Homo sapiens: one gene and its partners. The protein of the gene in region 4 interacts with the protein of the main gene of each other region in a biochemical or structural test. Each region holds a gene or a part of one and is shown on either strand. Other genes may lie near its edges. The genes, in order: DOC2A, SPTBN2, RIMS1 and UNC13B.

Region 1 (6,832 bases), on a different chromosome or scaffold from region 4:
TTTGGCCTCTGGCCTCCCCTCCATTCCACCCGAATAGCTGAAACCAAGGTGGCCTCTCTGCTGCACAGCCCTGACCATCAGGGAAGGTCCCAGCTGCAAATCCAAGCACAAAGGCAGAGGTCTCTCCAGAGCCTGGGTTTCGCTGCCCGCCACCTGACTTGAGGGAGTACTCTCCCTACATCTCCATCTCCTAGGATGACGGAGCAAGTTCCCTGTCCCTGAAGACTTCACTCCTTAAGAGATTTTAGGGGAACTCAAGGCACGGAAGGGGCAGACCAAAGCTGCAGAGGTCTGGCTTAAGCCAAGGGCTCTGAGAAGGGGTCTCGGCAACCCAGGAACGTTTTTGGGAGGGGGCAGAGCTTGGACTGAACCTCAGATGAGCGGAATTTAGGCTGGCAGGAAGGAGCTTTCCAGATAGAAAACAACAGGAAAAGTTCAGGAGTTGTGGAACTGGCCAGTTGGAAGAAGGGAGTCCTCTGTTTGAGGGGCAGAAGATACTTTTGTTTTGTTTTTGAGATGGAGTCTCCATCACCCAGGCTGGAGTGCAGTGGTGCGATCTCGGCTCACTGCAACCTCTGCCTCCCGGGTTCAAGTGATCCTCCTGCCTCAGCCTCTCGAGTAGCTGGGATTTACAGGTACATGCCACCACGCCCGGCTAATTTTTGTATTTTTAGTAGAGACGGGGGTTTCACCAAGTTGGCCAGGCTGGTCTTGAACTCCTGACCTCAAGTGATCCGCCCACCTCGGCCTCCCAAAGTGCTGGGATTACAGGTGTGAGCCACCACACCTGGCAGGCAGGAGATATTGAGGGGCAGGAATGGCAGGGAAGAATTTTGGCCTGCTGCCAAAGGGGCTAGGGAGCCGCTGATGGTTCTTGAGCATCAGAGAGGTACGGGCTTAATGGGACATAGATCAACCAACCAGCGGTTACAATGTCAGCTGTCCCCGAGCTGCTGCTGGGTGGTGGGGAGGGGGGCCCTCACCTGAGCACCTTGTGCGTGATGTCGTCATCTGTGATCCCGCTGTAAGTCAGGTCCTCATTCCACACGGGATTCAGTGTGTTCCTCTGAGTCTTCGTTTTTAGCTTATTGGCCTGGGATGTGGGGATGAAAGGTTCTCAATACCTGTCCTCCAGCCCCACAGGCTGGAGTCATGGGCTGGGCCGGGCGGGGCGAGAGGAGGCTGTTACCTTACAGGCTCCAGGCAGCAAGTGCAGCTTGACGTAGGGGTCGGCGAGGCCATTGAAATCCATGGGCTTGAGGCCCTGGAGAGGAGGGCAGGGGAGAGGGCTAGAGGCTCCCGGCACCTCTCTCCATCCCTCTTGTAGAGCTGGACCCTGGAGGAGCCCAGAAGGAGGGGGCAAGGGCAGGACGAAGGAGCAGGCCTGGGAAGGGAAGGAGGAATGGGCCCCCTCTGGGGGCTGCACGCAAACCGGGCCCGGGCTTGGGTGGCAGGGAGTGCCCACCTTGGCCCTGAGGATGCTACAGTGCAGAGTGCAGGAGGCCCGGTCGTAGAGAAGGTCAAACTCCAGCGTGCCTAGGGCGGCTGGAGAGAGAGGAAAGGCAGCATGGGTCGGTATGGAGACAGGTGTGTGCGAGAGGCCAGCAGGTGGGCACTGGCTCTGTGTGTCTCTCTCTCTTGCCAGCCCGCGAGTGTGAGTGCAAGAGGCTGAGTGGGCCCATGCGTGTGTGCGTCTGGGTCCCTGGCTCGGCCGCAACTGGGGCTGTGTGGGTGGTGGAGTGTCTCAGCAGAAATACTGAATATTGAGCCTTGCTGAAGCTGTAATCTCCACGCTGACTGCAGCTGTGGTGGCCGTCCCTGCCACCCCCCCACTGCCCTCCTCCCCTACCTACATGCACAGCCAGCAGGGCCCATCCCCCTCTCCCCCCACCACGGCAAGCCTGGAGACCCCCACCAGCACATGGGGCCTCCAAGCCCCCAGACTCACTGGCATCATCCGAGTCATAGCTGTCCACCTCCGCACCATCCTCAGGCGTGGTGGCCCCAAGGAGGGCTGCAGGGGGGGCCAGAGCCAGGGGGACCAGATGGGCGGGGGCCTCCCCGCCGCCCCCGCCGCCCCCTTCAGGTCCTGGTCCCCGGGGGAAGTAGTCAGAGATCTGGCGGATGGGCCGGATGGGCCCGGGGCACACGTTGATGGCCATGTGCTCCTGGATGTTGATGGTCATGCGATCGCCCCTGCGGCCCCTCATGCAGCACCCCTGGCTAGGAGAGGGCGTGTGAGCCAGTGAGCCCATCATACCTAGCCATCCTGGCTGAGGGCCAGGCGACGGCCTCCTCGGTCTGTGGGGCCCTCACTGGCCTCCCTTCCTAGGTGTCGAGGGAGAGGGTGGTGTGTGCCAGCCGGTGGCAGGTGGGAGGCCTGGGCCCTGCAGACCCCAAGCTGACTCCACAGGGGCTGGGCTGCCAACCCACTCCTTGCAGAAGTCGAGGTTGCACCACCCCGTCCTCACCCACCCACTTCTAGGTTGTCCCTGTATCATCTTGCCAGCTCCTTCCTCTCCTCCGGGGCTCCCCTCTGCTCCTGAGCCTGCCTGTCCCCCAAGGGGCCCTGCAGGGCCCCGCCTCTGTTTCTCGGAGGCTCTGTCCTCCTCTGCACCAGGCGCTGGTCTAGTCAGGGTGTCACCCACCCCTCTAGGCTCCAACTGCCCACTGTCCCCTCATTCAGCCCCAGGACCTGTCTGCCTGCCTGGTTCCCCCGCTCGCTCACCACAGCCCACGGTGGAGACCCCAGCCTCAGATGCCACCTCTGGCTCCTCAGGGGAGCCAGAAATTGCAGCCGCAGGAGAGCCGAACACCCCCGTAGCGCACACAGGCTGGCACGCTTCCCCGCACCCTCACGCCCCCGGCCTGCCCAGCCCCCTGCACCTGCCTCTGCCTCCAACAGGTGCCCAGGCACTGGGGGGACGGCGGGCGCAGGCTGGGCGGCGGCGGCCGGCGAGGAGAGCGCGGAGTCGAGCTGTGCGAGCCGAGAGGGAGGGAGCGCCGAGAAAGTGCGGGGAGGAGGGGGTGAGCGAGGTGGAGGCGAGGATGCAGCCGGCGCGGCGGCGGGGGACGGGGAGGGGCGCTGGGGCTGGGGAGGGGGCGGGATCTCGGACTCCCACCCGGGGCCCGCTCGGGAGCGCACGCGAGCGCGCACACACACGTGTGCTCGCGCGCGCACACTCACGCAGGGGCACGCGGACCGGCACACACTCGTGTGCACACATCCAACCGGGCACCCCCGCGCGCACACGCCCGTGCCCACGTGTGCACGCTCACACCCTTGCACACACCCAGGCGCGCGCTGGCACACTTACCCGGAGAACTTCGCACACACACGCACTCGCAAACACGCGGGCTCCCTGCGCCACCAGGAAGCAGCCGCCAGAATCGCCGGGTGTTCCCCAACTACTCCTGGGAGACCTGGCCCCCCGCCCCCGCCCGCGCGCGCGGCCACGGCGCCTCCCTCCCTCCCGGGTCCCCAAGGCCGGACCACCGGCCTCGTTGTCATGGCGACGCCGGCTCATCTCCCCCCACCCCCGCGCGTCTTCACGCCCCTCCCCCGCAGGGAGCTGGGGCCTCCCTCCTCCCTTCCCCACGTCCGTAGGGACCCACAGGTTGACAGGAGCAGGGGGTCGCCTGCTGTCACCGGCCGGGGATCTCGGGGTCTCCCGAGCCAGGCTGGGGAGCCTCACGATCTGAGGGAGGAGGCAGAGGTCTGATGCTGCGGCTTCCCCCACGCCCCCTCCCTTTGGCCGTTCAGGCCTCTCTCCTTGTGGCCCAACCCAACTCCCAGGGGCCCATGTCCCCTTACCAGGGATGGTATCTCCTTTGGGAACCACCCTCCCCCCTGCCATCCCCAGTTCTGCCCCGCAGGTGGGAAGGGGCGTCGGGGCTTGGCTCTGAAGGTCTCAGAGCCCTGCGGTAGTTCCCCATGGGCTGCCATTTCTCACCCAAACCTTGCCACCCCCAAGCCGCCCCCCTGCCCGGCCCTGCGCCTGCCACGGAGTGTCAGTCCACCCCTGGCCTTCGGTCTTCACTCACCTGTGCCCCAAACTTACCATCCCGAAGACACGAAGGGGCTTATCACCCTCGCTGCCCACCACTGACTCACCCAACCGTTTCCTGCAGTTCCTGGGACACACCTAGACGGCTCAGGCCTAGGGATCTTGGCTCACATGCGCTCCTCTACCTGGGAACCGCGCTTCCTTAGGAAGTCACCGTGGGTCCCCTCTTCCTAGGAGCCTTCCTGGGGCATCCCGCACTGCCCCTCAGCTCCAGCGCCGTCAGGACTCGGCTCAGCACCGCTTCGCCAGTGCCTCCCCCACCAGCAGGGAGTTCCACTGGAGCGGCTGATTCATCTGGGAGTCCCTAATGTCCCAAACTGGGCCTGGCACGAAGTCGGCATCTCTAAGTGCTGTTATTTAAAACAGCAATCTGGTTGCACGACAACTGAACATACCTAACACCACCTAATCTTACCCTTAAAAATGGTGAAGATGGTACATTTCGATATGCGTATTTCACGGCAATTTTTTTTTTTTTAAATAAGAGAAATGGGGCCGAGAGTGGTGGCGGGTGCCTGTAATCCTAGCTACTCCAGGGACTGCGGCGAGAGGATCGCTTGAGTGAAGCCAGCCTGGGCAACACAGTGAGACACAGTCTCTTAAAAAAAAAAAAAAAAAAAAGTAAGAGAAATGTAAAGTCAACAACACTGAGGGGGCGGGGCGCAGTGGCTCACGCCTGTAATCCCAGCGCTTTGGGAGGCCGAGGTGGGTGGATCACCTGAGGTCAGGAGTTTGAGACTAGCCTGGCCAACATGGTGAAACCCCATCTCTGCTAAAAATGCCGGGCGTGGTGGTATGTGTCTTGGGAGGCTGAGGCAGGAGGATCGCTTGAACCCGGGAGGCGGAGGTTGCAGTGAGCTGAGATCGTGCCACTGCACTCCAGCCTGGGCTGTAAGAGCAAAACTCAGTCTCAAAACAAACAAACAAACAAACAAACAAAAAACCCTGAGATATCACTTATTACCCATAAAATGGGCAAAGCCAAAGTGTCTGGGCTGGGGGGAAGCTGAGACGGACTGATCCCTTGAGCTCAGAAGTTCAAGACCAGCCTGGGCAACATGGTGAGGCCCTGTCTCTACAAAAAAAAAAAAAAAAAAAAAAAAAAAATCCAGGCATAGTGGTGTGTGCCTGTGGTCCCAGCTACTCAAGAGGCTGAGGTGGGAGGATCTCTCTTCTTTTTTTTTCTTTTCTTTTTTTTTTTTTTGAGATGGAGTCTCGCTCTGTCGCCCAGGCTGGAGTGCAGTGGCGTGATCTCGGCTCACTGCAAGCTCCACCTCCCAGGTTCATGCCATTCTCCTGCCTCAGCCTCCCGGGTAGCTGGGACTACAGGTGCCCGCCTCCACGCCTGACTAATTTTTTTGTATTTTTAATAGAGATGGGGTTTCACCTTCTTAGCCAAGATGGTCTCGATCTCCTGACCTCGTGATGGTGGGAGGATCTCTTGAGCCCAGAAGGTCAAGGCTGCAGTAAGCTATAATCACTCCACTGCACTCCAGCCTGGGTAACAGAGTGAGACCCTGTCTCAAAAAAAAAAAAAAAAAAAAAAAATCCTTAGACCCAGAAATTCCACTTTTAGGATTTTATCTTACAGATATGCCAACCCATAAGCCAAATAATAGAAGTTCAAATTCTTTTTTTCTTTTTTTTTTTTTGAGACAGACTTTCACTCTTGTTGCCCAGGCTGGAGTGCAATGGTGCGATCTTGGCTCACCGCAACCTCTGCCTCCTGGGTTCAAGCAATTCTCCTGCCTCAGCCTCCCAAGTAGCTGGGATTACAGGGGCGCACGCCCCACACTTGGCTAAGTTTTTGTATTTTTAGTAGAGACGGTGTTTCACCATCTTAGCCCCGCTGGTCTTGAACTCCTGACCTCATGATCCGCCTGCTTCGGTCTCCCAAAGTGCTGGGATTACAGCTGTGAGCCACCGCGCCTGGCCATGAAGTTCAAAATTCTTAAATGTAGCACGTTCCAAAAGACTGGAAACAACTGAGATACCCAGAAGCAGGGGACCAGTTAAATCAGTCATGATGTAATTCCATGCAGTGAAATAGGGTGCAGCCACAAGAGGCTGTTTTGCTCTTGTTTAGAATCATCTTTTTTTTTTTTTTTAAATATACAAGGTCTCACTACTTTGCCCAAGCTGGTCTCAAATTCCTGGACTCAAGCAATCCTCCCGCTTCGGCCTCCCAAAGTCCTGGGATTACAGGCGTGCGCCACTGTGCCTGGCCCTAGAATCATTTCACAGTTTCATTTTAACTTAGAAAAGCCAAGTGCAGGCCAGGCGCCATGGCTCACGCCTGTAATCCCAGCATTTTGGGAGGCCAAGGCGGGTGGATCACGAGGTCAGGAGATCGAGACCATCTTGTCTAACACGGTGAAACCCCATCTCTACTAAAAATACAAAAAATTAGCTGGGCGTGGAGGCGGGCAACTGTAGTCCCAGCTGCTTGGGAGGCTGAGGCAGGAGAATGGCATGAACCCAGGAGGTAGAGCTTGCAGTGAGCCGAGATTGCGCCACTGCACTCCAGCCTGGGCGACAGAACGAGACTCCATCTCAAAGAAAAAAAAAGCAAAGTGCAGGCTGGGCATGGTGGCTTACACCTGTAATCCCCGCAATTTGGGAGGCCGAGGCGGGAGGATCACGAGGTCAGGAGTTCAAGATCAGCCTAGCCAACATGCTGAAACGCTGTCTCTATTAAAATTACAAAAATTAGCTGGGCATGTTGGCGGGCACCTGTAATCTTGGGAGGCTGAGGCAGGAGAATT
Region 2 (7,022 bases), on a different chromosome or scaffold from region 4:
CTCCTGGGAACTCTCCCCGGCATTTCCCCCATGGCCTCCTCTAAGCCTCCCCCACCTCCTCATGCTTGGGTCAGACCTGGGGGCTGAGGGCCTGAATGTCATGCTCGTAGGCACAGTGTCGGCGCTGCAGGGCCTCGGCAGCGTTGAGGTCGCGGCCAGTCCCGTCCGGAAGCTGCTGCTGCTTGTGCTGCACCCGCGCCAGGGCTTGGCGTGCCCCGTGCAGGAAGCGCTGCAGCTCGTACGCCGCGGCCAGCACCTGACCCCGTGTGTCCAGCAGCTCAAGCAGGTCAGCCCAGGCCTCGTTGAGACTGTCCTTCCACTCGGCCACGGTGGCCCGTGCAGCATGGCCCCCAGCAATGAGCCCATTGGCCAGCGCATTGGCGCTATCTACGCGCTCCTGACCGATGGTGCTTGTGTCCCGGGAGAACTCTCGGAATTTGTCTCGGAGCATCTGGTAGAGGAAGCAGATGGACAGACCATGCCGTGATGTTAGGGGATGTGGTCCCTGCCTGATGGAGCGAGTCCTCCACTCCAAACTCAGAACCCACCTCTCCCCGCTGCATGGGGGCCGGGACAGGTTTCTTCCCTGTGGTTAAGGAGTAGGTGCAGCTGCTTCCCACTGACCCTGTATTTGACAGACTCCCTCCACCCCCAGCAAAGGCGTTTCAAGGTGCTTGGGACCCTTAGGCTTCAGACAAGGATACCCTAACTATGGTCCATATTTCTGTACGACTGAGGGTCCAAGCCCCCAAACTGTCGGGGGGGTGGATCATACTCCGTTTTGTTGAATTCTGTTGAAAAGTGTGAGTGATAATTTCCTGTTTGCCCTTGTCTCAGCTCAGCTTCATGTCCCCTTTCTGTACAATTCTTCAAATTGTGTGTGTGTGTATGTATTTAGAGATGATAGGGTCTTGCTCTGGAGTGCACTAGCGCAATCACTGCAGTGTCGACCTCCCAGGCTCAAGAGATCCTCCCACCTCAGCCTCCTAAGTAGTTGGGCCTACAGGCATGCACGGCTGTGCCTGGCTAATAAAAAAAAATTTTTTTTGTAGAGATGGGGGGTCTCACTATGTTGCCCAGGCTGGTCTTGAACTCCTGGACTCAAGCAATCCTCCCATCTCAGCCTCCCAAGGTGCTAGGATTACAGGTGTGAGCCTATGCCCGGCCTCTTCAAATCATATACCTCAAAACCAGGAGGACAGTGCCTGCTCAGCCTGGTCTTGCCCCTTAGCCCCTCAGTGCTCTGCCTGGGACTAGGTCCTAGTCTCCCTGTGGGTCCTCCACTCTTCCCACGGTTGATCTGAGCTGGGTGCCCTCCCTACACTCACAGTCACATGCTCGTAGTCCTGGCCCAGCTCGTGGGAGGCCGCCACCACCTCGCGCTCCTGGATCCACTGTTCCAGGTCATCCAGCTCGCGGCGGAGCTGGCACAGCCGGAGGTGCTCCTGCAGGCGCTCCCGCCGCTCTCCAGCCAGCTCCTTCAGGCCGGCATACAGCTTGTCCACCTGGGCTTGGCGGATGGATATCCGAGTGCTGCAAGAAGAGTGAGGGAGGCACTGTGGGACTTAGGGGTGTAGCTCTGACCTCCGGTCTGTTCTGTGGAGCCCTGTCCCTCTGAGTCTCCCAACAGCTCGCCCACCCTGTGTTCCAGCTTTCTAGAAGGCTCCGTGCACACAGCACTGAAGGCTCCACATTCCCTGCACCTTCCTGTTCCTGCAGCCGGCTCCACCCCCAGGCTGGGCCGGGCTGCCGCTGCACCCACCTCTCTGGGTGCTCGTGGTCAATCATGTCCTGGCTGCTGGCCGCCAGCTGGTGGATGGTCTGCGCGTAGTCGGCCAGGGCTTGCTCCAGCACCTGGTGCTTCTTCACCTCTGCCTGGGCACTCAGCTCATCCTGGGGGAAGGGACAGTGGCATCCAGCATCAGGTCAGGGGAGGGCAGAACTGGTCACATACACTGGGCTCTGTCCTGGCCCTCACCTTGGCCTTCTCCTGGCCCATCATGTGTAATTCCTGCTCGCCCATCCAGGCCTCCGCCTCGGCGGCATCGCGGTAGAACTGCTGGGCTCGCAGGGCATCCTCCAGTCGCTTCCCTCGAAGTTCCAGCTCGTGGCCCAGGCGTTTCCACATTTCCTGCAGCTCAGCCAGCTCTGGACCTGCTGCTGCTGCACCTAGAGCACGCTGCCGCTCCCTCAGGTCCGCGATCCGGGGCTCATGGCCCTGAATCTCTTTCTGCAGGGTCTGCCCATGGCCACAGAAGAGAAAATGCTGAAAGTCCTGCCCCAGCCCCACGTGCTCCCGGAGACCACCCTTCACCCCTGTGCCTCTCTCCTTCCTGGGTCCTCTGCTCCCTCTCCTAGCCTGGGGGTGCGATGGTAACACCCGTCAGCCGCCCAGCCCCCACTATCTCCTACTGAGAGGACCCACCCTCCCAAGGTGAGGAAAGACAGCCACTGAAGTCCAGGGTTACACTCAGCATCGAGGGGGGCCTGGTCTTAAGAAAAAACACGTCCAAGTCTGGGCAGGCTCCTGGGAACTTCTCTTTTGCCTTCAGCCTCTGCCTCACCTGGTTTTTCTTCATGAGAAGCTGGACGCTGGGCAGGTCCTTGCCATGCTCCATGGAGCTGGCCATGGGCAGCCGCTCTGTCACCCACAACTGGAAGAGGAAGAGGGGGTCAGTGGAGGCCCAGAGGGCAAGGCAAGCAGCAGGGACTGATTAGTGGGAGTGGGGACACCTGGGGCTACCGCCCTGTGTGTGGGGAACAGTCATCTCTGGTTCTGGGAGGCATCTCCAAGTCTCCCTATAGGGGAGATGGTCAATGCCAAAGAGAAGAGGGAATAGAGCCCTGCTGGCATCTCCCTGGCATCCAGGAGGGAGGCTGGAGAACCACATGGCTGGGGGCAGCTTGCCGTCCTTGGCCCCAGTGACTCACAATCTCATCTTCCACATCGCGGTGGAACTGGTGCTGCTCGCGAGAAGCCTGCAGGCGCCGGCAGCGTTCCCGCATGGGCTGGCACAAGGCCCTGAACTTCTCCTCCACGGCCCTCGAGGTTCTCTCCACCTCCCCTGCACCCTGGTCCTCCTGGGCCAGTGCTTTGGCCTGGGCCTGGATTGCCTCCACCTCCTTCTCTCTCACAGCCATCTCCCATTCCAGCATCTGCAAACCGCCAGGAGGAAGGACATGTTAGCTCTGCATTTCCGCCTTCATGCCCAGCAGAGACACCAACCAGTCTCTATCCAGCCCACTGTGGCTGCTCATCACTGCAGCTCACCCAGGGAGAGCATCCCCTCATGGGCTGGATCAGTGGATCTCGAACTTTATATGCACAAGAATCCAAGGGCAGGGGTTGAAAAAATCCCTATTGGGTACTGTGCTCACTACATGGGTGATGGGTTCAATTACACCCCAAACTTCAGCATCACACAATATAACTTATAACAAACCTGCACCCACACCCGCGAATCTAAAAGATTGAAATTAAAAAATCCAGGGTAGTGTGATAACTGTGCCCATTATCAATTCATTGTCTCTCCATCCCCAATCCATCGTGGCCCTGCTTTGAGACACTGGAACTGGCCCCTGGAAACATTCCTCCTTTGCCAGCAGGCACAATCTAGGCCTTGTCAGCAGAGGGCGCTGGAGGGACACCACAATGCCTAGCAGATGTGGGGCATTCCACGGTTCCAAGGTGCTTTTCTTCCTCCTACAGCAAAACTGTCCACAGTGCGCAAGAGATCCGGTGGCTCTTACTCTCTGGCAAGTTTTGCTGCACTCTAGTGGCCACTTCCTGCTGGCCAGCCTTGGCTTGCTGGCTTCAGACATGCTCTGGCCTGTGATACCCCAGCAAATTTCCAGGCCATTCAGTGGGCCTCCGCCCTCTCCAAGGAGGTCTGAGACTCAGCCATCTTGCTCCTTCCTGGGGGACTCCTCAACCCCAGAGGTGTCAGCTGCTCCCTACACTTCCCATTCTGCATTCTTCAGAGCAGGGACCAGCAAGTCCAGCCCACTGCCTAGCCTTATAAAGTTTTTATTGGACCACAGCTGCACCCCTTTTTAAAAAATTTTTTGAGACAAGTCTCGCTCTGCCACCCAGGCTGCAGTGCAGTGGCACGATCACAGCCCACTGCAGCCTCGACTCTCCAGGCTCAAACAATCTTCTCACCTCAGCCTCCTGAGTAGCTGGGACTACAGGCACACACCACCACCACGCCCAGCTAATTTTTGTAGTTTTTGTAGAGATGGGGTTTTGCCATGTTGCCCAGGCTAGTCTCAAAACTCCTGGACTCAAGTGATCCGGCCACCTCGGCCTCCCAAAGTGTTGGGATTACATGTGTGAGCCACCACACCTGGCCATACCCCTTATTTTACATATAATCCGCAGCTGCTTTTCCTTACAAGGGCAGAGTTGAAGGGCTGTGACATAGACCTTACGACCCATGAAGCCCCAAAAATTTACTATCTGGTGCTTTACTGAAAAAAGTTTTCTGACCCCTGCTATAGAGTTCTCTTTACCACCTTTTACTAATTTATACTTCTGTTTTTTTTTTTGAGACAGAGGCTTGCCCAGGCTGGAGTGCGATGGCATGATCACGGCTCACTGCAACCTCTGTCTCCTGGGTTCAAGCTATCCTCCTCCCTCAGCCCTCAGCCTCCCAAGTAGCTGGGATAACAGGCGTGCGCCACCACGCCTGGCTAATTTTTGTATTTTTAGTAGAGACGGGGTTTCACCATGTTGGCCAGGCTGGTCTTGAACTCCTGACCTCAAGCGACCTGCCTGCCTTGGCCTCCCAAAGTGCTGAGATTACAGGCATGAGCCACTGTGCCTGGCCTAATTAATATTTCTTTTTACTGAAGTTCTCATCGTCAAATTATTAGGGGGTCTGTCTCCTAACTCTAACCCTGACTGCGACATATCCCTAGAGATTCTGATACTGGCTGCCCAAAGAAATGACTCTGGGAAATGCTAGTGAAGGTGTTATCTGCCAGGCCTCAGCTGGCCTCCCAAATCTTGAAAGCTGCAGCCCCTTTCTTCTGCTGTTCACCATCCCCATCAAAGGCCCACAGCACACCTGCTGCTTCTTGAGCAGGATGTTGACGCTGGTGAGGTCCTTGCCGTAGTCATCCGAGTGCAGCTGGGCCTGCAGGCTCTCCAGCCAGCTCTCCAGGGCACAGCAGCTCTGGGCAAACAGCTCAGCTCGGTTGGCATCAAAGAGGCTGCGGGCCTTGGCTTGGGTGGTGGTCTCCAGCTCGTCCCAGCGCCTGTGCAGGTCTCTCAGCTTCTCCGACACCAGGGCTTTCAGCTCTGGCTTCTCAAGGGTGAGCTCTCGCCCTTCCTGGAAGGCAGGACAGAAAATGTCAAAGTGCCCAAATTAGCCTGAACTTTAGAGGCTGAGAGCAGACCAGGGGCCTTACGGGCAGTAGAGACCTGAAGTGTGGGCAATAATTCCAAGTCCTTGTGTGTTCTTATCGACACACTCTTCACGGAGGTTTAAAATCCCTTCTAAACTGCTGTTCCCTCACTGCTGATGAACCCCACTCCTCCTTCAAGACCCAGCTCAAACAGCATTTCAACGAGGAAGCCCTTGCACTCTCTTTAGTTTGGGTTCCTTGGTGCCTGTGGTTTCTGGCACCACACTGCACATTGACTTGAGTTATTTGCCATCATTTTGTATTTCTCAACTCATTACTCTTCACTTCAGTGATAGCAAGTTGAGTCCCACCTGGTTTCCCCACTTCCAGCTTTTCTGCTTGAGGATTTCTGTGTCTGGGGTGGTGAGGGAAGTGTGCTCTCTTGAACTGTGTGGAAGGCAAATTGGAAGAGCCACAGAGTTAACAAGCCCAGAAGCAGCCCTCAACCAGTGACAGACAGGGAGCTGATGGATAAACACACAGCATCCTTGTGCCGTGGCTGTGAGAGTGCTGTGTTCTGTGTTCCATCTACACCCCCGCAGAATGCCCCATGAGGGTTGGGCTCCTGATGCCCATGGGGGTAACTGGCATGACTTCTGTCCCTTCTCATGGCTCCACCCCCCTACTGATCATTCCCGGGGACACCTCCCTAGAATCACTGTTTCAGGGTCTGCTTCTAGGGGAACACAAACCCAGACACTGCCTTCAGGCCATTTTGCAGGTGGCTGTGGCTGTCAGGATGGAGAGCATCAAAGGCTAGCACTGCCTGGGTAGCTTCACAACCCTGAGCACAATCAACACTTGGAAGCACACGCATGTGGTGGTCAGGACTTCCCGGGGCTTCTCTCCCACCTCTTCTTCCATGGGGCCCTGCACACATTCTGTGCTGCTGCTGGACTCACTCACCCCCTTGCTCCCAAACAGGCACTGCCTACCACTGGTTTTCTGTTTGGTTTTCTCTACCTGGAAACATCTTTTCCTCCATATCTCCACTTGTCCAAATTCTACTCATCCTCCATGGACTGCCCTGGATGTTGCTGCTTCTAGAATTTCCATATCTCCTCTCTCCTTATTCCCCAGGCTTCAACGGGGCCACTCTCACAGCACTCATCAGATTCTGCTCTGGATTCGATTTAGCTACCTGCATATATGCCTCATATCCTGGCTACAGTGTTGTTCCTTCAGGGTGGAGCCTACCATGGGATCCCTTTCGGACCCCACGCAGGGCCTAATACAATGCTTTGGATATAGTAGCACCAAGTAAATATTTGCTGAACGAATGGAAACACTTGAAAGCACACTGGTCTCCTTTTGTCCCAACCATCATGCCCTTGAGAAAAGGAAAGTGTCTTTTCGTAGACCCTGCAGTGCCTCGCAGACTGTTGAGCACGTACCATGTTCTGTAGGGATACTTGCTGAGCAGATATAAAGCTTTATCTGTCCTTGACTCTTGAGGAACAGCTGGGTGGGAGACCAAGAACCAGGGACGGCAAGACTCGAAAATAAGGATTGGCAGACTACATACAGCCCACGGGGTAATCTGGCCCACTGCCTGTTTTTACAAATAAAGTTTTATTGGGAAACAGCCATGTTCATTCATTCACTTATTCTCT
Region 3 (7,022 bases), on a different chromosome or scaffold from region 4:
ACTGTAATATTACGTAACTGATGTGGTTTTTTTTTAATGTCTACTTCCTTTATAAGGCATAATTTTCATTTTCTAGCAAACAAATTGTTTTTCACAGAATAATAAATCCACTCTAAAATAATATCTTAAAAATATTAGACTGCATACCAAATTTACCAGAATGACAGAATGCAAAATCACCAAGAACTTTTGTAGCCTAAGTTTGGAGCTTGTTGTGTTTTAAAATCCCACAAATCAATCAATAAAATTAAATTAATAAAAATAAGACCTTCCACTGGCGGTAACGCTATCTTATCTGTGAGCATTCCCAGCCTCAATGCTGAACCCAGCAACTAGCCTAGCACCTGCACCTCTGCCCACGCCTCTTCACTTGGCTGAAGTCCCCGCACGGCCGGCGCCGCCCCCTTACCTTTCTCGCTGACGCTCTCGCTCTCCAGCTCCACGTCCTCGCAGCTGGTGTACTCGGGCGTCGACACGCCCTCCTCCTCAGAGCTGCTCACCGACATCTGCCGCTTCTTGCCGCCTCTCTTGGACCGGTGCGGCTTGGGCGGGGACGGCCGCACCGACTCGGACTGGTCTGAGCTCAAAGAGTCGTTCCGCAGCATGGTCTCCACCTTCTCGCGCTTGGCCTTCCGCATGAGGACCGCCGAGCTGGGGTCCAGGCGGCTCTGCTTCCTGAGGGGCTCCTGGGCTTTGAGCTCCGGGGCTTCTGCGGGAACCGGCCCATGTCTGGGCGCCGGCGGGCTGTGGTTCGTTAGCTGCTTGGCGCCCGGCGCCCTGGTCTCCGCAGTTCTCTCAGCCGAGTAAGCCCGCGGCGAGTCCGGCGGCGAGGCCCTGGCTGCCGCCGGCGCGCGTTTGCCGGCCTTGCCCTCCGGCAGCGCCGCGCCCGCCTCGGTGCGCGGGAGCGCCACGTCGCTGTGGCGCCGCTCGTGCCTGGCGCGGGACACCCGGGCGTGCATGCGCATCTGCTGCTCCTCAGGCGGCGGTTTCACCGGGTACCGAGCTAGGTTCGGGTCGCTGCGGTACCTGGTCTGATAATCCTCCTCTTTTCTTTGCTTTTCCTCATCCGCCGCTTTGCCCTCATCCCGTTTTTCCGGCGTGTCTGGGTAATCCTGTGATCGCCCTTTCTCAAGCCTTCGGCTTTCCCGCCTTTCTTTGCGCTCCCGTTCTTCGACGGCCCCCTCCACGGGCTGCGCTGAGGTCTTTGGCACGCGTTTCCGCTCGCTCTTCAGGGCTCCTTTGCCATTCTGCTCGGAAAGCCCTGGGGTCTTCTTTCTATGATATACAAAGGAACGTCAAGGAGAGCAATTTATAAAGACTAGACATAAAAAACATGTTTTCTTCTCATTCCAGTCTTAAATCATTTCAGTTACAATAATTAGTTATAGGGATTTGGATCTGAAGGTGGAACTGTAAGGGTGTTGGAATTTTACAAGGTAAGGGATCTAATGGGAACACATATTAATTATTACCAAATATAGTTTTCATAAGAGTGTCATGCTTGTACTACATTTAGCAGCTCATTGAAGCATAGTTGCTCTTGTTAGAAGTTTACATTGAATCAATTTACTTTTCTTGAAATGCTGAAAAATACTTACCTTGCAAGGTTCATGTGAGGATTAGAGACACCATCTGTGAAGATGTTTTATGAAAGGGTAGAGTGTCATGCAAATGGAAGGAGTTCTCCAGTGTCTCTGATTCTTTGCTCTACTAATTATACTTTTTCTCATCTCTACCTTTAATTTTCTGTTTCTAACTCCTTGACAGTACAAAATACGGTCAAGAATTCTTCAGTAATTTAAAACAAATAAACAGTGTCTCTTTCAATCTTGCTTCTCCCTGAAGTTGCCCAGCTCTTTACACTGGCCACCTCTCTTCCTGCTTCTGTACTTCCCAATTCCTCATTGCTTTCCTGTGAATTTATATCATTAGTAAAGTTATTTGTCCCTATCAATCTTCTTCAAATTTTAACTAAAAAGTCAGAACAAAAAGTATCTATTCAGCCCTTGTTCTTGAAATTTTTATAGTTTTTCACTATATGTCAAAAACAGAACTCTTTTCTCTTTAGAAACTTTACAGCTCCAAATTCTCTATCTTATTTAAAGATATCATCTTCCAACCAGTTCCAAACTGCAGCTTCAGTATTTTTGTCTCTTCTTCTCCCACAACAATTTGTCACCAAATGCTATTAATTCTACGTTCCCTGAGATATCTCTGGTGTCCTTTCTATCCTTTCTCCAAATAGCTTAGTAACACTCATTCTCTTGTACTGCCCTCTTATACGCTGTGTAGCTCCCCTACAACTCCTGAGTATCTTACAAAGCTTAATTGAGAAGTCACTTCCTCTTTCCTAGGGCTCTCAAAATACTATACATATTGCCTAGCTTTGATCAAATTAGCATCCTTGTTAATTACCTAGGTGTCTGTCTTCCCTAGAATAGTGTGTGGTCTCTTCCCTAGGATTTGTCAGAAAAGGGACCATGTATGTTCTAATCATCTTTATGCCCTCTGGTTCCTGGCACAGTGTTTATCTGTAGTAAATACACAATGACTACTGGCTTGAATAATAGCTACATTCACTGAAAGCCTACTATGTGCCAGCTTGGGAACACATGTTCTCTTTTAATACCTGCCACAACCCTGCAAGTGAGTTTTTACTGCCTATTGTGGCAGAGCCAGGACTAGAATCCAGACCTATTTAACTTTGAAGTCCTTGATCTTTTACTGTATGGGCTTTGCTTGAAAAGGGGTTCAAAAGCTTTCCTTGGAGCCTCCTTTCTCCAAGTAATGGTTACACATACAAAAACAATAAGCCCAGTCTAGGTGCTAACAAAAGTCCTGGCCCCAAAATCATGAGCCTCATGAAGATAAGGGCTCTGTCTTCTTTGTCAACACTTTTTCCCAGTGCATAGCTTCATGTTTGCCCATGAATACATTTTTGAATGAATCAATCAAAGTAAATAATCTGATCATATTCGTCCCTGTTTAAATATTCAGTGGCTTCCCTTTCACCTACAATAAAAGCTATAAAATGTAACCTGTCCCTTCACCACCTCACCAGCCTTTTCTCCTCCACATTGCCTCTGCTACTTGCACTGTAGCCAGCAGCTATCCTTTAGGAGGCCCTCACGTTGGGCTTGTTCCTTCAGGCCATGTGCCTGTGCAGATACCTGGAGCACCCATCCTTCCCTTCTCCTGGTTAATTTCAAAGTCACTCTTTAGAGCTCAGCATAAAAGAAATACCCTTAAAGAAGGCTTCTCTGATGTGTCCACATACTTTCTGATAGGTCAGATTCCCCCATCACATCCTCTCAGAGCACACTTTTAATTAAAGGGCTAGGTTTATAAGTGAAACATGATCTAAGAGCTTTTCTGAGTTCATCATTGGAAGTTGGTAGCTCAGCTGGGTGACTTAGTTCATGTTTACATCTGTGCATGATATGAAAGAAATGCTTTCAACAAAGGTCTCCTAAGGAATACATTCTAGAGATAGACAACGCCCCTCAGGCCTTTTGTTTTTCCATGTGGGGCCTGAGAAGTACTACTTCCACATATTCCTCGTAATAGAAGTTAAATTCTTGAAAACGGCTTTGCTCTCCTAGCAAAATCTTGCCTTTTGCTTACAGGGTGAAAGAACTATTACCTCTCTCTAGGAGGTTCACTTCTAGACCTGGATGAAGCCTGCTTCTGTTCAGGCCCCAAGGCTTGCTGCGAGGGCTCAGCCCCTTTGCTCCTGTCTGGTGGTGCGCTGGGAGGAGCAGCATCCTGGGAGGAGGCAGCTGCTGTGCTTAGGGGTGTCTGAGACCGCGATCGCTCTTGGAGTCGTGCTTTCTTTTCTCTTGGTACCTCAGAGCCAGCACCTGTAGCTGTATCACTCAGGGTTCCATCCTGACTTGTCTGCTGAGGGCCACTTCCAAAGAACCATGCCCCAGATTTGGTTAAGATTTCTTGTTGCTTTCGACATAAATTGCATACCCACATAACCTATTTGAAGAAGAAAGAACAATATAAATTTTTATGCCCTCTTGGAAATAATTTTTCAGTATCTTAAAATATATTTAAGAAAAAAAGAACAGTATTCATTTTCATATTTATCCTTGCAAATTTCTTGTGAAAATGGTCCTCCCACAAGTCACAGTCAAATATATGAATGCCTAGACAGGGACTTGTCTGAGACTAGAGAGCCTCTCAGCAGCCAGAGTAGAGGTTTTTTCTCAGCATTTCTGATTTGATTATTCTGAATTTCCTTTTACCATATATCTGTCATATTTTTTATAATTGACTCTGGAGTGTTAGCAAAAATGTTCTAAGCAAGGTAGTTAACTGATTAGAAAAATGTTACCAGGAAAAAAAAAGAAAAATGTTACCAGGAACTACAGAATCAGTACGTAAATACATAAACCTCAGTACTTGCAAGTATTTTTAAAAAGTCTGTCTTTTCAAAAATCACCCACAATTAAAGGCAATATTAAAAATATTCACATAGAAGAAACATACAAAGTAAGCACACAAAAAAGGTCAATGTGTATATTTTCTCTAGTTTCTTAGTGATAAACTAACCTTAAGCTTATTTATGCTATAAAATATAATTTTCCATGCACATATTTACTAAAGCAATAAATGTGACTCTGAGTTTATTCATATGTGACCACTCCAATGTAATGTTCCCCAAGGAGAGCTATTGGGGAACCATCATTTAGCAACATATCCACTGATAAATTATAAGATGTAGCACCACTTAAAATAAACTATATGTCTGTTCTCCATTTGATGACCTTTAAAATGAATGTAATAATGAGGACGATTATCATAATAAAAAATAATAATAGCAGCAATGACTAGCTGTCACAGGGCAAAGATAGGTGCTAACAGCTCCATGAGCTGTCTTTTCAAATATCCTCAGTACCTCTGTTTCTTTGTGCTGTGACTTTACATCGCTGCCTCAGTTACATGCCTCCAAAAGCACTTCAGGTGTTTTGTGTTTGTTTCTACTTCAGAAACTACCTCCACAGGAAAAACTAATTACCAAACTCTAGGCTTCCTTTTCACAAATACTGACTCAATCAACATGTACTCAAAAATATTGCATCAGGATGAATAAATCGTAGAAACATTAACTGATAAGTAATAGAAAATAGTAAAAGAAGCATTGTTTAGTAGGTCAAATGAAGAAAATGAACTACTGAAAATATTCAGATAAATGGGGAAAAACTGTAACTGTAGCCATAGAATAAGATGAAGCTAAAATAAGAATAAGAAAAAGACAGGAAAAAAGTAATACACTTTTTTAAAAGGAAAATACTGCAGGTGAATTAAGAACTGCTTTCCAGGAAAGAAAACTCAAATGAATTATAATATAGGAAAAATTAAGACTGAAGAGAAATACTTGCTATAAAAAATTTAAAATTCATGAAGGTTAATTGATTTATTTAGACTTTCCCAGTCATAAAATGAAGTGTACTAGGTTCAAAAAAGCAGTTAGGTATAATGTCTACACAAAGTATTATAACCAATATTACGGAATTCTCATCTACTAAGATGTCAAACAAGATGAACAATTCATTGCATAAACCTATATCAAAATAAGGATTTTATGGAAAGTAACTTCAATTTAAGTGCTAGCCAAATAAGGGTATATTTTACAAAATCTATTACTGAGTAGGTCCCTCAGAAGTCCTGATTGTTTGAACATGGACATATTAAGGGTAACATTAAAAGGTGCAGTACTCCAGGGCCAGGACCTTCATGAACAGTCAGTGACACTGAGTCTCTTCTGCCCAGAACCCTGAGTGGGGACAGGACGTGTGTGGTGGGAAGGTTTTGGTTGGTTGGTTTGTTTTTTGTCTCTTTAGCTGACAGACCATAATAAGAAAGTTTGAAATCATGTAATTCAACAAGACTGGTATGAAATTTTGACTATTTTACATCAAATAAGAAGACGTTAAATTTGTATTTCTCAGACTAATAGTAAGCAACTTATTATCATCATTTAAAGTAGGTTCTTTTCAGCCAGGTGTGGTGGCTGACACCTGTAATCCCAGCACTTTGGGAGGCTGAGGGGAGCAGATCTTCTGAGGTCAGGAGTTCGAGATCAGTCAGGCCAACATGGTGAAATCCCGTCTCTACTAAAAATACAAAACTTAGCCGGGCATGGTGGTGCATGCCTATAATCCCAGCTACTTGGGAGGCTGAGGCAGAAGAATCACTTGAACCCGGAAGGCAGAGGTTTCAGTGAGCTGAGATCCCGCCACTGTTCTCCAGCCTGGACGATAGAGCGAGACTCCATCTCAAAATAAATAATAAGAAATAAAATAAAATCAAGTAGGTTCTTTTCTACAGAAATATCAAGGTATACTTAGGATAAATATGCAGTTTTTAAAAAACCAGAAAACACAAATTTACAATTACAAAGTTTCTAAAATTGAATAAAGCTAAATAAAGAAGCAGAAAGGAGCACAATAATACTGATGAAGGGTAAAGGATACTCTTCATTTTACATTTGAATATTCTCTAGAAATTATTATCACAATCTTATTTTGATTGCTTCACATTTTTAAACGTTACAAAAAATGGGTCAATGAGAACTAACTGCCAGATTTGGGCATGTTCCAAATTTTGAGTATGTGCAGAACTGCTACCAGATCAATTAAAAGAAACACAATTTATTATTATTAAATAAGTTGAATTTTACAATTTAATTTCATTTCCAGTTTATTCAAAAGGTTACAATTAGTGACTATGTCAAAACAGCATAGGCATTTTAAATTCTATTCTTAAAATACTTTGTATTCATTTAAGTCTGTGATGCTTTGTTAATTTTTTTGTTTTTAACATTTAGTAAAATACTGTATAATTCCAAACTTTTTCTATGTCTTATTTCCTTGTACACCACAACATTTTTAAATTTGTATTTTTAAATTAACTATAAGTGTAGTCAATCCATCCTCCAAACTGAAAGTAAAATTAACCATGGCAATGTTAAAATATTTATTTTTATCAAAATATCACCTCCCAGTCTCTAT
Region 4 (8,013 bases):
TTAACTAAAAGTCTAGCACCCTTTGAAGATCTGAATTGGAAATATTTGTCATCTATTTTCTCTAAGGGCAGCCACTATAAGACTTCAAAAGAACCTTGGTCTCCACAGTGTTTTTTCTTAACCTAAATATTTCCTTTCTATGATCCCTGGTCTTTAGACAAACTCAACCAATTTTCAACCAGAAAATGTTTAAATTTACCTATAGTCTGGAAGCCCCCCTTTGAGTTGTTCCGTCTTTCTGGACCAAACCAATGTATTTCTTAAATGTATTTGATTGATGTCTCATGCCTCCCAAAAATTTATAAAACCAAGCTGCACCCCAACTACCTGGGGCTCATGTTCTCAAGACCTCCTGAGGGCTGTGTCATGGGCCATGGTTACTCATATTTGGCTTAGAATAAATCTCTTCAAATATTTTACAGAGTTTGATTTTTTTCATCAACATTAGTAAAGATTTTACTTAAGTTATGTAAACTTGAAAAAGCATTTGACTATTTTATTTTTTCCTGAATAAGTGTTTGATTTAAGCACTTTTATTTTCTTACGCCAATTAATTAGAGCTCTTTTATATATTTTCAGTAGTGAAACATTGTGTACACAACACATAAATACATAGACACATTAGGCATGCTGATAGAGGTACATCTTTTTTTTTTTTTTTTTGAGACAGAGTTTTTCTCTTGTCACCCAGGCTGGAGTGCAATGGCATGATCTCAGCTCACTGCAACTTCTACCCGCTGGGTTCAAGTGATACTTCTGCTTCGGCCTCCCGAGTAGCTGGGACTACAGGCATGTGCCACCACGCCTGGCTATTTTTGTATTTTTAGTAGAGACAGGTTTCACCATGTTGTCCAGGCTGGTCTCGAACTCTTGACCTTAGGTGATCTGCCCACCTCGGCCTCCCAGAGTGTTGGGATTACAGGCGTGAACCACTGCACCTGGCCTAGAGGTACCTCTTATAGATTCATAAAAAACGTTTTTTTTCCTTAGGCTTTCAGATTCTTTTTTTCCCCTCCTCCCTCCCCGCTACTTTCAGATTCTTGATAACCTGTTTCACAACCCTAGGCAGTTGTCAGCTAAATAGCCTTAAATTTGCATATTAAAGAAAACAACTCAGGTGAACTCCAAACAGCAAAATTTACATTATAAAGTGTGGAGAGAAAAAGTCTGGTGTGCTAGACGGAAATTGAAACAGATTTAATGGCCAATTAAACATAAAATTATAGAAATTATAAAAGCCTTTTAAATACACACACACACACATCCTATAGCTTTTACTTCAGAACTTTTAGCTATGAGATAAATTCAAATTTACCGGTTTGCAAAAAGAACTTGTTGGATCTAAACTGTGGTTTTTATCTTAACAGAAAATAATGGCAGATTTAGAGCAGGCAGAAAAGAATAGAGAAAAGAGGTCTTAGGAACTCTATAATTAGTAGGTCGACCTTAGGGCTCTTTTTTCTTAATGTAAATGTGCACAAAGACCATATTTTTTCCATTTTACATAAACTTTGGCAGTAGAGGTGCCATAAAACCTACAGAGTGCTCAAAAGAGGGTCATTCTCCTTGTTTTCTTCTCATTCTTAGATTATTTGTTTTCCACTTCTTTTTTTCTTAAAAGGAGAAACTGAGCTGTGGCTTAGAGTTTCTGTGTGGTGGATCATCACGTGCTGCTTGTGGGCAGGACTCCACAATGTGCCACCACTGAATGGTTTCCACCCTCTTACATGTCTCAGTTTCTCTCTCCAGAGGTTTATGACTTCTGAGAGGGCTCACAACACTGGGTGATCAGCCCTTCAATGTGTTTCCTGGATGAGCCAGTTTTTAAATTAAATATATATATATATATTTTTTTGAGACAAGGTCTTACTCTGTTGCCCCGGCTGGAGTGCAGTGGCATAATCTTGGTTCACTGCAACCTCCACTTTCTGGGTTCGGGCAATTCTTACGTCTCAGTCTCCTAAGCAACTGGGGTTACAGGCACGCACCACTACACCTGGCTAATTTTTGTATTATTAGTAGAGATGCGGTTTTGCTATGTTTGTCAGGCTTGGTCTTGAACTCATGACCTCAAGTGATCTGCCTGCCTCGGCCTCCTGAAATGCTAGGATTATGTGTGTGTGACCGCACCTGGCCTAAATTAATTTTTGTTGGGGATTTCCCTGCAGGACCACTGCACATCGTTCGGGGTCAACCTTTCAGACACTCCCACAAGGTCCCCAGTCACTCAGGGGCACCTTTCAGTTGGGAGGGGCAAATGCCCTTTCTTTTTGGAGCTGAGAAAACTCAGTCTCTGATATACCTATGAAAGCAACAGTTCAGTTCCTCATGCAAATGCACACAGACAAACGGAATTGAGATTAATGTTGGGAGAAAAAGCAATATAAAGGATCCTTCAGAACGGATCTCCAAACTAGAATTAGGATTTTTTTTTTTTTTTGAGATGGAGTCTCGCTCTGTCGCCCAGGCTGAGTGCAGTGGCACGATCTCGGCACAGTGCAACTTCCACCTCCCTGGTTCAAGCAATTGCCCTACCTCAGCCTTCGAATAGCTGGGATTACAGGTGCACACCACCAGGCCCGGCTAATCTTGAACTTGTGGGGTCAAGTGGTCCGCCCGCCTCAGCCTCCCAAAGTGCTGGGATTACAGGTGTGAACCACCGCACCTGGCCTAGAATTAGGATTCTTAAACAACGACTTCCTAGGAGAGAAAATTAAAAAAAAAAAAAAAAAAAAAAAAGGAAACAGCCAAAACCACTTCCTATAAACTGTGCTCAGCCACCCGTAACTTTGTAGCTCTTTTCCAACAATATACACACCAAGGTCAAATCCTCTCACAGTGCAAGGTCATCTCTGGCACCCAAAGCCAAAAAGGTCAGGTCATGCAATACAGGAAAACAGAGCTTTAGACCTAAGAAGAATCTGCCCATGACTCTTGAAATCCCACAAAGCCAAGAGAACACCCCAAAAGGGGGTGAGTGGCACCTTTGTTCTAAATTCTTTTTTTTTTTTTGAGATAGAGTCTTGCCCTGTCACCCAGGCTGGAGTGCAATGGCACGATCTCAGCTCACTGCAACCTCCGCCTCCCAGGTTCAAGTGATTCTCCTGCCTCTGCCTCCTGAGTAGCTGGGATTACAGGCACGTGCCACCATGCCTGGCTAACTTTTTTTGTATCTTTAGTCGAGACAGGGTTTCATCATGTTGGCGAGGCTGAGTCTCGAACTCCTGACCTCGTGATCCGCCCACCTCGGCCTCCCAAAGTGCTGGGATTACAGGCGTGAACCATGGCGCCCGGCCTAAATTCTTTAAAGAGGTTCAAGTCATTAGAAGCCTTCTCTCGATTTTTTGGTAATGCAGATGGCAAAGGGTGAAGGAGGTATAGGGTGGAAGAAAAGTAAACAAAAGAACAATTGAATTTTTTTTTTTTTTTTTTTTAATTTGAGACAGAGTCTCACACTGTAGCTCAGGCTGGAGTGCAATGGCTCGATCTCCACTCACTGCAACCTGCGCCTCCTGGTTCAAGCAATTCTCCTGCCTCAGCCTCCCGAGTAGCTGGGATTACAGGCACCCGCCACCATGCCCGGCTAATTTTTTTTGTATTTTCAGTAGAGACAGGGTTTCACTATGTTGGCCAGGCTGGCCTTGAACTCCTGACCTCGTGATCCGCCCGCCTCGGCCTCCCAAAGTGCTAGGATTACAGGTGTGAGCCACCGCGCCCGGCCTAAGAACAGTTTAATTTTTAAGACCAGGAAGCAAACACAGAAACCAAATACATGGTTTTTTGTTTTCTGTTTGTTTTTTCTTTTGCAGCTGTGAGGAATTTTACTCAAATTAGATAGGCCTTGTTACCCATAATTTGGAATTCTCACTTGGATTTGACCAAGTGAAGTAGAGTTGGTCAATGGGAAAAAGACAAACAAAATAAAAAAAAACCCAACAATATGATCACTGAGCACTCTAATGGTAAGCAGAAATTAAGACCAGCTGGTTGTTAACTTTAGCCAAGACAAAAATCCCTATTCAGCTACTTACCTAGGGGTGCGTCTCAGGCTGAAAACGGCTGTCTACCATCCCAGAAGTAGGAAAAAAACCCCTCATCTTCCCTGTTGGAAGTGAGCTCAAACTCCATAAAAGAGTTACCTGCCTTCCCTCGTCATGGAAGCAGGAAAACTTGCCTTCCTTGTTGGAAGCAAGTAAAACTCCAAAATAATAATAATAATAATAATAATAATAATAATAATAGAGGGAGTTGTACAACAAAATGAACTTTAGATCTCGACCAAATTTTGGGAGATCAGGGATTCTCTGGAGGGGGTGCTCCTAGACCTTAGCAAATTGTCCTGTTGGTTTGAGCCATGGAGTTAGCTCATGTTGGTACCAAGCATGGATAGGAGATTTGTCAAAGATCAGAGGTATCTCCACTCACAATCCCTCCGTGGTTACCATCCTTCATTCAGTAAATATTTACGGACTGATTACCATACACTAGGCACTATTCCAGACATTGGAGATACAATGATGAGCATAAAAAACGGTCTAGATAAGAACTGAGGTCTCCAGACATACTTTATGCCCACTCAGTTTTGTCTTTTGCCCTAGTTGCTAAACAAAACTTAACTTTGCTGTGCGGTGCGACTTCGTTAACTTAAAATTACAGGCTGTCAGCTATGACCGCTAGACTCTAAGAAAGTCCAGTGGAAATCCTTCAATGAAAAGAATCTGTTCTTGGGTGGAAGCCCCGCTCATGCAGGAGGAACAGAGGGCTTCCATTCTCGCGTCACACAACTGAGGGTCAACCCCTTGCTCCCTGCAGTAAGCCTGATTAGTGGGCGGAGCTTCCTTCAGGATCGCAAGAAAGAAAGGAGGAAGGGGACCCCGCCTCCTACGTGCTCGCGGGGGGGGGCGGGGTCGGTGGACTGGGCGTGAGTTAATTGGCTGGGGGGCGGGGCACCACGGGTTGGCTCCGCCCAGGCGCTCGCGCGGATCCCGGGTGGAATGACGGGAGGGAGTCCCGGCAGCTCCTACCTCCCAGCGATGGCGTCGCTGTGCCGCGCCCAGTCCCCAGCCTGCCGGCCGGTACTCACCGCTACCCGGAGTTCGCTCAGACGGTGAGATTTGGGGCGGGTCCGAGGCAGCGGCGGGACGCTACCTGCGACCGGGACCATGAGGAGCTGCCAGACCCGTGGGGCCGGTAACGAGAGCAGTCGCGGCACCTGCTGAGAGGAAAGAGGGAGCGGTCCGGCGCGGCTGGGGCGCGGCAGAGGCTTGCCCGATCCTCGGCCATGTCACTGCTCTGCGTGCGCGGTGAGTGCGCGGACTGAGGCGGGGAGGCGGGGTGTCGGCGTAGAGGTCCCCGCACCCTTCCAGTGGACGTCCGGTGACCGTCTCACCCAAACTTTACATCCCGTCCGTGCTTTGGGGGTCTATTATTTTGGCAATCACTTAACAATCACTTGAGTTCTTTCCACTTTCTTGTTTTCCCCCAAGCTCCTGCAAGGGACGATTAGCTCTCCATTCTGGTAGCCATGTGACAATGTTGTTGGACTGCAGGCTCAGATCCTATTAAACAGTGACTGGGGTTCTCTAGTGAGAGTGGACGAGTTAGAAGACCGCGGATGGTTGGTGCCTGTGAATGGTGGGCAGCCTCTCATTCTTTTCCTCCTCCTCGCACCGTAACGCTACAGTATGCTTAGTAGCAGGTTCTTTTTATCACACTTTGAATGCGTTAGTGGTACAGCTGTCACATCCCTTCTATTGCTTGTCTTGTCCCCTGCCACTTCCCTGAACACTAACCGGTAGTATAGGCTAAGATTATTCTTCTGTTCCACTTGGGAGGATGTGGTGACTGCTTTTGAGGATAAGAGGTATGATTTATTTTTATTTTTATTTTAGCTTGCCTCACAGTAACTCAAGGTGAAGGGCCATTATTGCTTTTCCCCTGAGGACACTTGACCCATCTAAGAAGATATCTTAAAGCAAGAGCTTTGGGGTTTAAGATGAGGCATGGTACGCGAACTAAGTTCTATGTGGGTAGAGACTGTTTCTTATTAGTTTTTGTATTCCTGGTGTCTGACGTAGTAGAAGCTTAATGCTGGTTTTGAATGAATGCAAGTACTGTGACTTCAGAGAGATTATCTGATCAGGAAAACACAGGGTTTGGATTAGCCATTGAATTTGATCTCGGGAAATTCAGGTTACAGCCTATCATATCTGATGTGTCTTGATTATGAATGAGAGAGCATTTATCAACTAGAGCCTTTACCTGATATCTTTTACTGGAGAGTTCATATTTCTTTTGGCTCTACAGATTAGAAGCATTGTTGTTGTTTGTGATTTCTCCAATAACGATGTTTCCCCCAGCTACTGGCAGATGAAACTGCTTTGCTCTGTTCTCTTCCACTATTTTGTTGAATCTGCATTAACCAAAATGGATTTGGCCATTTCCCGGGATTATGAGATATACAGTTTTTCTTCTTTCATGGTTGATTTTTCATTAATGAGAATTTTGCTTTGCTTTTAGTAAGACATTTTCTCTCAGCAGCTGGGAATCTATTTATTCCTTTAGATCCCTGCTGCTGAGTAGCAGGATTTGGGAGAGGTTGGACTTTGCTGTGTCTCTTGGACAGTTTAATTCTCTACGGCCACACTGTATTACAGAGCTGGTCCTTATGAAAGACTCTTTAGGCAGGAGCACTCGTGAATCAGAAATTCCTATTTAACTGAATTTATATAACTACTGGTGTTTTCATTTGTTTTAATAGCAGGCAGGTTTCATTGTCTAGAAATTCTGCTATTTAGCTAACTTCTTTCCTTTTTAATGTTACTTTAGTGAAGTTTCTTCTTTTTTGAATCTGGAGAAACGAGATCAGCAGGCCATTGTCTTTTTGAATAGAGATCTAGAAGATTTTAAATACTGAAACAAACAGGTACCTTATATGCAGATATTCATATTGAATGGCAAAGTATTCATTTTGGGAAAACTTACAGAAATGAATTGAAATACATCTTTATTTTTATTTCTTTTTCTTTTTTTGAGACAGAGTCTCATTCTGTCACCCAGGCTGGAGTGCAGTGCTGCGATCTTGGCTCACTGCAACCTCCACCTCCTGGGTTCAAGTGATTCTCATGCCTCAGCCTCCCGAGCAGCTGGAATTACAGGAGTGAACCACCAGGCCCGGCTAATTTTTGTATTTTTTGTAGAGACAGAGTTTCACTGTGTTGGCTAGGCTGGTCTTGAACTTCTGACCTCAAGTGATCCATCTGCCTTGGCCTTCCAAAGTGCTGGGATTAGAGGCATAATCCACTGCACCCAGCACAAAATACATCTTTCTAAAATGACATTCCTTGCGTTGTATTTTGGCAGTAGGAATGTTGTATTCTGAAAGCAGTCTATATAGTGATATTTATTACAACTCAATTTCAATTCATCTTGGAGTAGAATCAATTAGAAACTTCCTATGCAGAGTTCAAAAAGTAGTTAACTTGATGTAGAAATTGGCAAACTGGTATTGAATTAATCATTCCTAAACATTTCATTCAAGAAGTCAGTTATTTTGTCTTGCCCTTTAATCATGCCTTATTGCCTGCAGGTTTAAGGCTCTCAATACTCTGACTCCAGACTTGTGGCCTTCTATTCTTGCCTATCCTTATGCAGACTTTGCTCTAGCACTAACTTTGTTTATTCCTGCCTCTGCTCTGTTCTGCACTTGTGCCCCCTGAAATACTCGTTCCATATTTTCTGCCTATCTAAAATGTATTCTTACTTTCCCAGCTAACAGTCTACTTTTTTTGTTGTTGAAAACTTCTTCAGGTCCCCAGTCCACAGTGATCTCTTTTTCCTTTAAATCCTCGGAGCACTTGTGGTCTGAACAGTGCCACTAGTTTGGAAATGAATCATATGCTGCCTGCAACTGGTCTTGTATTGTGGTGCTTATGGTGACCCAGACAAAGGAAGTAATTGCACTGGTCAGATCAGATCTGGAATTTTGTGTTCAGCTGTGGTATTTCCTTCTAA

What was found.
Region 1: the proteins of UNC13B (region 4) and DOC2A form a complex in vitro, tested with the Homo sapiens proteins (2 studies listed by BioGRID).
Region 2: the proteins of UNC13B (region 4) and SPTBN2 form a complex in vitro, tested with the Homo sapiens proteins (one study listed by BioGRID).
Region 3: the proteins of UNC13B (region 4) and RIMS1 form a complex in vitro, tested with the Homo sapiens proteins (one study listed by BioGRID).

What each region holds. Positions count from the first base shown.
Region 1 is NC_000016.10:30,008,013-30,014,844, forward strand, and holds the start of DOC2A (double C2-like domain-containing protein alpha), read right to left. Parts: upstream 3,016-6,832; 5' UTR 2,891-3,015; intron 2,224-2,890; 5' UTR 2,211-2,223; coding exon 1,949-2,210; intron 1,546-1,948; coding exon 1,466-1,545; intron 1,265-1,465; coding exon 1,190-1,264; intron 1,094-1,189; coding exon 984-1,093; intron 1-983. UniProt on the Homo sapiens protein: Calcium sensor which most probably regulates fusion of vesicles with membranes. Binds calcium and phospholipids. May be involved in calcium dependent neurotransmitter release through the interaction with UNC13A.
Region 2 is NC_000011.10:66,691,208-66,698,229, forward strand, and holds part of SPTBN2 (spectrin beta chain, non-erythrocytic 2), read right to left. Parts: intron 6,962-7,022; coding exon of another isoform or gene 6,638-6,961; exon of another isoform or gene 5,797-6,637; coding exon of another isoform or gene 5,691-5,796; exon of another isoform or gene 5,375-5,690; intron 5,334-5,374; coding exon 5,070-5,333; intron 3,157-5,069; coding exon 2,932-3,156; intron 2,655-2,931; coding exon 2,565-2,654; intron 2,240-2,564; coding exon 1,979-2,239; intron 1,894-1,978; coding exon 1,763-1,893; intron 1,534-1,762; coding exon 1,329-1,533; intron 452-1,328; coding exon 77-451; intron 1-76. UniProt on the Homo sapiens protein: Probably plays an important role in neuronal membrane skeleton.
Region 3 is NC_000006.12:72,176,537-72,183,558, reverse strand, and holds part of RIMS1 (regulating synaptic membrane exocytosis protein 1), read right to left. Parts: intron 3,985-7,022; coding exon 3,644-3,984; intron 1,276-3,643; coding exon 410-1,275; intron 1-409. UniProt on the Homo sapiens protein: Rab effector involved in exocytosis. May act as scaffold protein that regulates neurotransmitter release at the active zone.
Region 4 is NC_000009.12:35,157,003-35,165,015, forward strand, and holds the start of UNC13B (protein unc-13 homolog B), read left to right. Parts: upstream 1-5,006; 5' UTR 5,007-5,281; coding exon 5,282-5,303; intron 5,304-8,013. UniProt on the Homo sapiens protein: Plays a role in vesicle maturation during exocytosis as a target of the diacylglycerol second messenger pathway.